2 linked regions of the Homo sapiens genome follow. The protein of the gene in region 1 interacts with the protein of each later gene in a biochemical or structural test. Each region holds a gene or a part of one and is shown on either strand. Other genes may lie near its edges. The genes, in order: PSMD14 and TXNL1.

What was found.
Region 2: the proteins of PSMD14 (region 1) and TXNL1 form a complex in vitro, tested with the Homo sapiens proteins (one study listed by BioGRID).

The regions. Positions count from the first base shown.
Region 1 is NC_000002.12:161,388,118-161,391,943, forward strand, and holds part of PSMD14 (26S proteasome non-ATPase regulatory subunit 14), read left to right. Parts: intron 1-2,986; coding exon 2,987-3,061; intron 3,062-3,826. UniProt on the Homo sapiens protein: Component of the 26S proteasome, a multiprotein complex involved in the ATP-dependent degradation of ubiquitinated proteins.
Region 2 is NC_000018.10:56,610,767-56,614,592, forward strand, and holds part of TXNL1 (thioredoxin-like protein 1), read right to left. Parts: coding exon 3,658-3,826; intron 332-3,657; coding exon 227-331; intron 1-226. UniProt on the Homo sapiens protein: Active thioredoxin with a redox potential of about -250 mV.

The sequences.
Region 1 (3,826 bases):
ACAGTAAATTTGAAGATTGGTAGTCAGTCTCATGGAAATTTACTAAATATTGATGCATAGATGCATGTGCTAAGGCTAAGAGCCTCTAAGTATAGTCTTGAGTACAGTTGCATTGTTTAATAGAGTTAAGCTATTTGGAAAACATTGTTTCAGTAATTACTGAACATATAAGTTATAAAACAATTGCACTAGAAAGGAGCCATTGTAGTCATTTAGTACATGAGGAAACCTGAGGCCCATAAAGTTGAGTTGCCCAGGTAATCCAGTGAGGTAATGTAGGAACTAGTACTCATAACCAGACTGCTTCATTCTTTTATATTATCATTGGAAATTTAATTAATTAATTTTGGCATAGAAAATATATATACAGTTAAAAAAATTTAAAGTACAAAGTCATTTAGCAAAAACTCTCCCTTCCTCTTTTGCCTTCTGCAACTCAGTTCTCCACTCTAGAGGGAACCACAAAACACATTTTGTTTCTTTTCAGTTATTCTATTTATATTCAAAAAGCTTCATTTTAGAACGTGATTTAAAGGATATCAGTTACCACCGTATTTTCAGTTTATCAATATAAAATAAATTAAGGCAAACAAATTTGTCTTTAGATCCAAGCACACCTTTTTAAGGAGCATGAAAACTTTTAAAAACTTATCAGGAACCCATGAATAGCTTATATATAATCCGTAAGCCGTGTGTTTTATAATGCACCTGCTTTTCCACAGCAGTGAGTGCATAGAGGTAAAATCATAAGTCAGTTGGTCTTGTGTAGTTCTACATGAACCCAAAAAGGACATGGCCGGTTGACTTATGATTTGGGAGGAAGGCACTGGGGGCACACAGCAGGTGAGTAAGTGAAATTGAAAGACTACTTGAGGATATCATTTGATTTAAACTTACCTTTGTTTTGTTATTGTTATACCTGCTGATCTTTCATGCTGTCTGTGTTAGTTTTAATGCTTTTATCTATATAATGTAATTGAAAATCAAGTAGATTGTGCCTTCAGACACCAGTTAATATTTCATTAGTACAGTTAGTCTCAAAAATATAGGGCCTAGTATCTGTGAGTCCATTAACTGGCTTCTGTATGTATTGGCTACAGCAGTTACTAGCTTTATGACCACCATGTAGGGTTGTGCAAGTAGTGAGTGCATCGCGCAAATGTGCTTGGATGAGGGAGCTTCCAGCTCAAGCTCCACTCTCTACGCCAGACTATGTCTGCTTAGAGGACTGAGCACCTTTTTCTAATTCTCTACCAGGCTGATTCACCTCCTAATGTACACGAATATGAGCACAGATTAAAGGAAGCCCTGATCATTTCTACTTTTTGATCTGTACAGTATAGCATTTTTATGCACTAAAATTTAATTCATTGCTTCTGATGATTATTGAAATGAGTAAGGATTTAATATACACTCTTGGTACTTTACAATCAGTCACTGCTCCCTATGGAATTTCATAGCTCACTTTTATAACAGACATTGGTAAAATAAGAATCTATTGTTAAAGTACTCATCTAAAATATTTTAATACTCATTGGAGTGATTTTTGCTAGCAAAGCTTAAAAATTAACATAATGCTTTGTTTCATCCTGATCCTTAAAGTAAATAGACTTAATCCAAGAATTTCCTGACATGTATTGTGGCATAGTATGTTAGAAAGAACATAGGCTATGGAATCAGAATGACCTAGGTTCAGATCCCCATCTAGCCTTTTACTAGCTAGAAACTTGGACAAATTAATATTTGTGTCTTATTTTCTTTCTTTTTTGTTGTTTTTTTTTTTTTTTTTTTTTTTAGAGATGGGGTATTGCTATGTTGTCCAGGCTGGTCTTGAACTCTTGGGCTTAAGTGATTCTCCTGCCTCAGCCTCCCAGAGTGCTGGGATTACAGGCTTGAGCCACTGAGCCCGACCCTGCATTTTATTTTCATCTGTCAAAATACAAATTGAATTGCCCTACCTTACAGTACTATGAAGATTAGAAGATGTAATGTGTAAAGCAGATACTAGCTGCTCATTAAATGTTCTCTTCTTTACCCCTTCTTCCTCTACCTCAGTGACATCTTAAGACCTACATTGTAAAAGTCTATTAGTTAGAGAAGTGGTGGTTATTTTGGTTAGTTTTTCTCTTTAGATTCCTGAGGGTTAACCCCAAAGTCCTTTTTGTTTTTATACTTGTTAAAAATATCCCTAAAGGTTTATTTCTGACTTTCATGTTTTTCTAGGCTGCCAGAGGATCCTTTAGGTCCACCAGAGTACTGTTGAACCTCATTTGAACACTTGATGTTGTCAGAGTTAGATATGGGGGCAGTTGTGAATTGATTTCAGGACATCCAGGATTATTGTTTCTTAATAAAGCCATGCTATTAGCTTAAGATTTTATTATGATTGGCCTGTTCACCTTGGAGACAGAGTGAGGTGAAAAAAATTCTGGTTGGTGAGATTGCATGTCACTGGATAAGAGCATGAGCTAGACAGACCCAGTAAAGACCAAAATCCACATAGTTAATTTGGAGACATGCATAACATAATTATTTGAATCAATCAAAACTGAATTAGGAAAAGGGGAATTCCAGATTAATGTGGGTAAAGAAACAGCTGTGTTATTGTGGCTTTTTAGGCTTTTCATTTGAAATACCCATGAGCCCCCTAGATATCATAAAGTTAGATTTAATAAATTATGAATGATTTATAAACTTAGCTTATGATAAGATCAAACCTTATCTCTGACTGAGCAAGGCTACTGAAACTGCTTAATTTGTGCTCCTCCATATCATGCTTTGAAGAATGTGTAACCCGTTCCTCTAAACCTTAGTTTTAAACTTGTAGCTAAGAAGAATACTTTAATTTCATCTTAATTTACTTGAAATAAAATGCCTTTATTAGAGGATGGTACAGGTATTATGTAAGAATATATCAACAGTTTCAAACATTTTTATTAGGTGAAAAATATTAATTTGTCCTTTTTAAAATCATTTATCTATATAGGCATTAATTCATGGACTAAACAGACATTATTACTCCATTACTATTAACTATCGGAAAAATGAACTGGAACAGAAGGTAAGTTTAAATTTTTATCTTATAGGAGGAAAAAAATCTTTTTCAAACCATTTAAACTATTACCTGGTATGTGATTTAAATTCGAATTTTTGACCTCTTTCAGTGTTTCCAAATATTATTCCATTATTGATGAATTGCAGCACAAAATAAGGGAATATTTTATTGGACTATTTAAAGACACATTTCACCTTATTGGTAGGTGCTGAAGTGGGAGAGGAAGTAGGAAATAAATCAAACGTTCCACTTTGGTTTTATGATAAGTCATAAAAATATTTCTTTTAGTTCTGTGATTTTTCTGATTAACTTATCTTCTTCAATAAAAAGGCCTTTTGTAATTAAATTAGTAATATATTGCTCTGTAAATTTGAGAGGAATAACTTAAATTGCAGTTGTGTAGTGCTTTTTGTTTGTTTGTTTGTTTGTTTTAAGAGATAGTAGGGTCTTGCTCTGTCTCCCAGACTAGAGTGCAATGGTGTGATCATGGCACACTGCAGCCTTGAACTTTTAGGCCCAAGGGATCCTCACTCTACAGCCTCCCGAGTAGCTGGGACTATAGGCATGCACCACCACACCTGGCTATTTTTTGGGTGGTGGGTGGGAGGTAGAAACGGAGTCTTGCTTTGTTGCTCAGGTTGGGCTTGAACTCCTGTGCTCAAGTGATCCTCTCACCTCAGCCTTCTAAAGTGCTGCAATCATTAGCATGAGCCATTGCACCCAGCCTAGTGCTTTTAGAAAACATACCATGTTTACTCTAAAGAAAACTAA
Region 2 (3,826 bases), on another chromosome or scaffold:
ACTCTTTTATCAGTTAAGACATCATTTTTTATTAAAGATTACTTTGTTGGATATCTAAAAATATAGTTAGGGGAACTTTCTATCCTAGTTTAGCCTTGTAAAATTTCATGACATGATATAATTTTGAATTATTTTGTTAAAAGAAAGTGTGACAGTTGAGATACATGAAATTATTCCATTAAAATTATATTTTTACTATCCCGAAGTATCATTTAAGCAAACTTACTCGTTTGAAGTCATTCATATTTGTTGCCTGGACTGGAGTACCAATAAAAGTAAAATATGAAATTCTTGTTGTTTCCTCTTCACCTTGATTCGACTGAACAAATATCTACCAAAAAAAAGTTTGCATTTATAATTACAATCCTTCTTCACAAACATGCTTTAAGTTTAATCAATTTCCTTAAATTAATAACATAAATATTCTCCATTCTTTGTAAAAATTAATCTAGGCTGGGTGCAGTGGCTCACGTCTGTAATCCCAGCACTTTGGGAGGCTGAGGTGGGCAGATCACCTGAGGTCAGGAGTTCGAGACCAGCCTGGCCACCGTGGCAAAACCCCATCTCTACTAAAAACACAAAAAAATTAACCAGGTGTGGTGACTGGCACCTGTAATCCTAGCTACTCGGGAGGCTGGGGCAGGAGAATCGCTTGAATCCAGGAGGTGGAGGTTGCAGTGAGCTGAGATCGTGCCACTGCACTCCAGCCCGGGCAACAAGAGCAAAACTCTGGCTCAAAAAAAAAAAAAAAATTAATCAAAATTATATAACATTAAGACTAGTACTCCTATAGGATAGGACTACTAATTATAGGGCTGTTTGCCCTGCTATTCTCACTTTCTCCAGAGATGTCATGGCAAGAGACCCATATATATAAGTTCATGGTAACTTGGTGTGATAGTATGGCAGAGTCACAATTAAATTCTCTCTCTATATGTATTTTTTGACATGGAGTCTCACTCTGTTGCCCAGGCTGGAGTGCAATGGCACGATCTCGACTCACTGCAACCTCCGCCTCCCAGGTTCAAACGATTCTCCAGCCTCAGCCTCCTGAGTAGCCCACCAGCACACCCGGCTAATTTTTTTTTTTTTTTTTTTAAGAGATGGAGTCTTGCTCTGTTGCCCAGGCTGGGGTGCAGTGGTGCCATCTCAGCTCACTGCAACCTCCACCTCTCAGGTTCAAGCAAGTCTCCTGCCTCAGCCTCCTGAGGAGGGGGGACTACAGGCACATGCTGCCACGCCCGGCTAATCTTTTTTTTTTTTTTTTTTTTTTTAAATTTAGTAGAGACAGGGTTTCACTGTGTTGCCCAGGGTGGTCTCGAACTTCTGAGCTCAGGCAATCCTCCTGCCTCAGCCTCCCAAAGTGCTGGGATTACAGGTGTGAGCCACCGCGCCCAGCAATTAAATTCTTTATAGAGAATGTTGAAAGGGTATTAAGAGTTACAATTACAATGGGACAGACTATCATTGGAAATTTTATTAAAATCATAGTTTTTCACTGAGGAAAATCTCTAAAGTGATATTCTTTCTGATATTCCTGTATCCATTCTATTTCCTAGAATATTAAAAGAAAAAATAGTATTGGGAATCAGCTCCTAAAACAATACTATGTGCCTCATTTTTTTTTTAAGCTTGACTCTATATTTAATAACTCCCCTCAGCACGATAAAAACTAAAAGTTTTACTCATTGATCCTTTGTCATACATTGGATTTTTGAAATTTGCTCCATTTCTAAAAACACAATATTCTAGGTGCTGTCTACTTTAAAATATTGCACCTATCTCTTTTTTGAGACAAGGTCTCATTATGTTACCTAGGCTGGTCCTGAACTCTTTAGTGCAAGTGATGCCCCTGCCTAAGCCTCCCAAGTAGCTGGGACTACCAGCGTACTCCCATGACCAGTTAAAAACTGCCTCTCGTGATTTAAACAACATACTTCTTTCATTCTGAGATGCCACTCATTCGTCAGTTTTTATTGTTTTCATAGGCAGCCATATGTTATTTCAAGAAAATATTTGATAATGAGTATACTAAGTTTAATATAACAATTTTCTTTGATTTCATTTGGGTAGGATATTTCTAATACTTAAAACTCAACTTGATTATAATTTTTTTTTTTTTGTCACCCAGACTGGAGTGTAATGACACAACTGCAGCTCACTGAAGCCTCAATCTCCCAGGCTCAAGTGGTCCCTCCAGAGTAGCTGGGACTACAGGCGCATCACCATGCCCAGCTAGTTCTTGTATTTTTTTGTAGAGATGGGGTTTCACCATGTTGCCCAGGCTGGTCTCAAAATCATGGGCTCGAGCAATCTGCCCATCTTGGCCTCCCAAAATGCTGGGATTACAGGAGTGAGCCACAACACCCAGCCAATTATAATTCTTCATACTACTACTATGTATATTCTGTGAAACTCTCAAAAACATTCTTAAATGAACACATACTTTAGCATTCTTCTAATTTACAAAAATAGAATTATTCCATCACAACAAACAAGCTGTACCAGTTTGGCATGACATTCTCAGTGGCTCTGTGCTGGTTCCTACTTTCTTTTTCTAAGTATTCTGCTATTCTTTTCTAACTGTCCTACCCATTCCTCTAAATGACTGTAGGTGAGAAGTGTGAGCTGGGTTTCAATGCTAAATTTTTTAAAAGCAATTAATAACTGCTAAAAATTAGCTGATTCTTGAGAGTGGCACTTTAATAATGACATCTAAAATACATCACTTAAAATCACCTCAAGCACTAGTCAATCTTCAGAAAGGCTGGGTGTAGTGGCTGAAGCCTATAAACCCAGCACTTTGGGAGGCTGAGGTGGGAGGACTGCTTGAGCCCAGGAGTTTGAGACCAGCCTGGGCCACACAGGGAGAGACTTCACCTCTACAAAAATAAAAAATTAGCTGGGTGAGGTGGCACGTGCCTGCGGTTGCAACTGCTCTGGAGGCTGAGGGAGAATCACCTGAGCCCAGTAGATCAGGGCTATACTGAACCAAGGTCGTGCCACTGTACTCCAGCCTGGACAACAAAGCAAGAACCTGCCTCAAAGGAAGAAAAAATTCAGATATACCTTAGGTCATCTTATAAAATGTAGTATTATCTTTTTAAAAGTCATTTTTAAGCCAGGTGCAGTGGTGCATGCCTGTAATCCCAGCTTCTCAGGAGGCTGAGGCGGGAAGATTATTTGAGCCCAAGAGTTCAAGTCAGCCCGGGCAACACAGCGAGACTCCATCTCAAAAAAAAATAAATAAATAAAAAGTCATTTTTACTAAGATCATGACCACCACACTTAAAAACTCCATATTCAAGAAAAGTAAATAAGATTTTACAAACACATCACTACTATACCAGGTATAAAGAATAAAGCACAAATATCTTCAGTTTTAGTATAAAGTTGTAGAATAAACTTCCAGCAAAACTTACCATATACATATAAAATAACTGACAAAACCCCACAAATATTCAAAAATCAATCTGTCCTTCCTCTTTAGGGTACATAAATTAAAAAGAAGAAAATTTATCCCATTAAACATTTTACTCATTTCAAACTGAGTGAATAAATACCACTTTAAAGAATCACTTAGACTTACCTAGGATACTGAAAATAGTATTGTTACTCACAAACCTATTAAATACATATGAACGAAATACTACTTACAGTTACACTGTTAACATTCTGAAACTTAACATAACGAAGTGGAACAATGCCATCTTCTTTAATATCATCCTCTGTCAGTTCCAGAGCTTGAGTTGGTTCACTTCTTTCTGCCTCTTCAAAATCCATAGATCGGGGTAGGTTGATAAAAATTTTTACATATTTAGGGCCC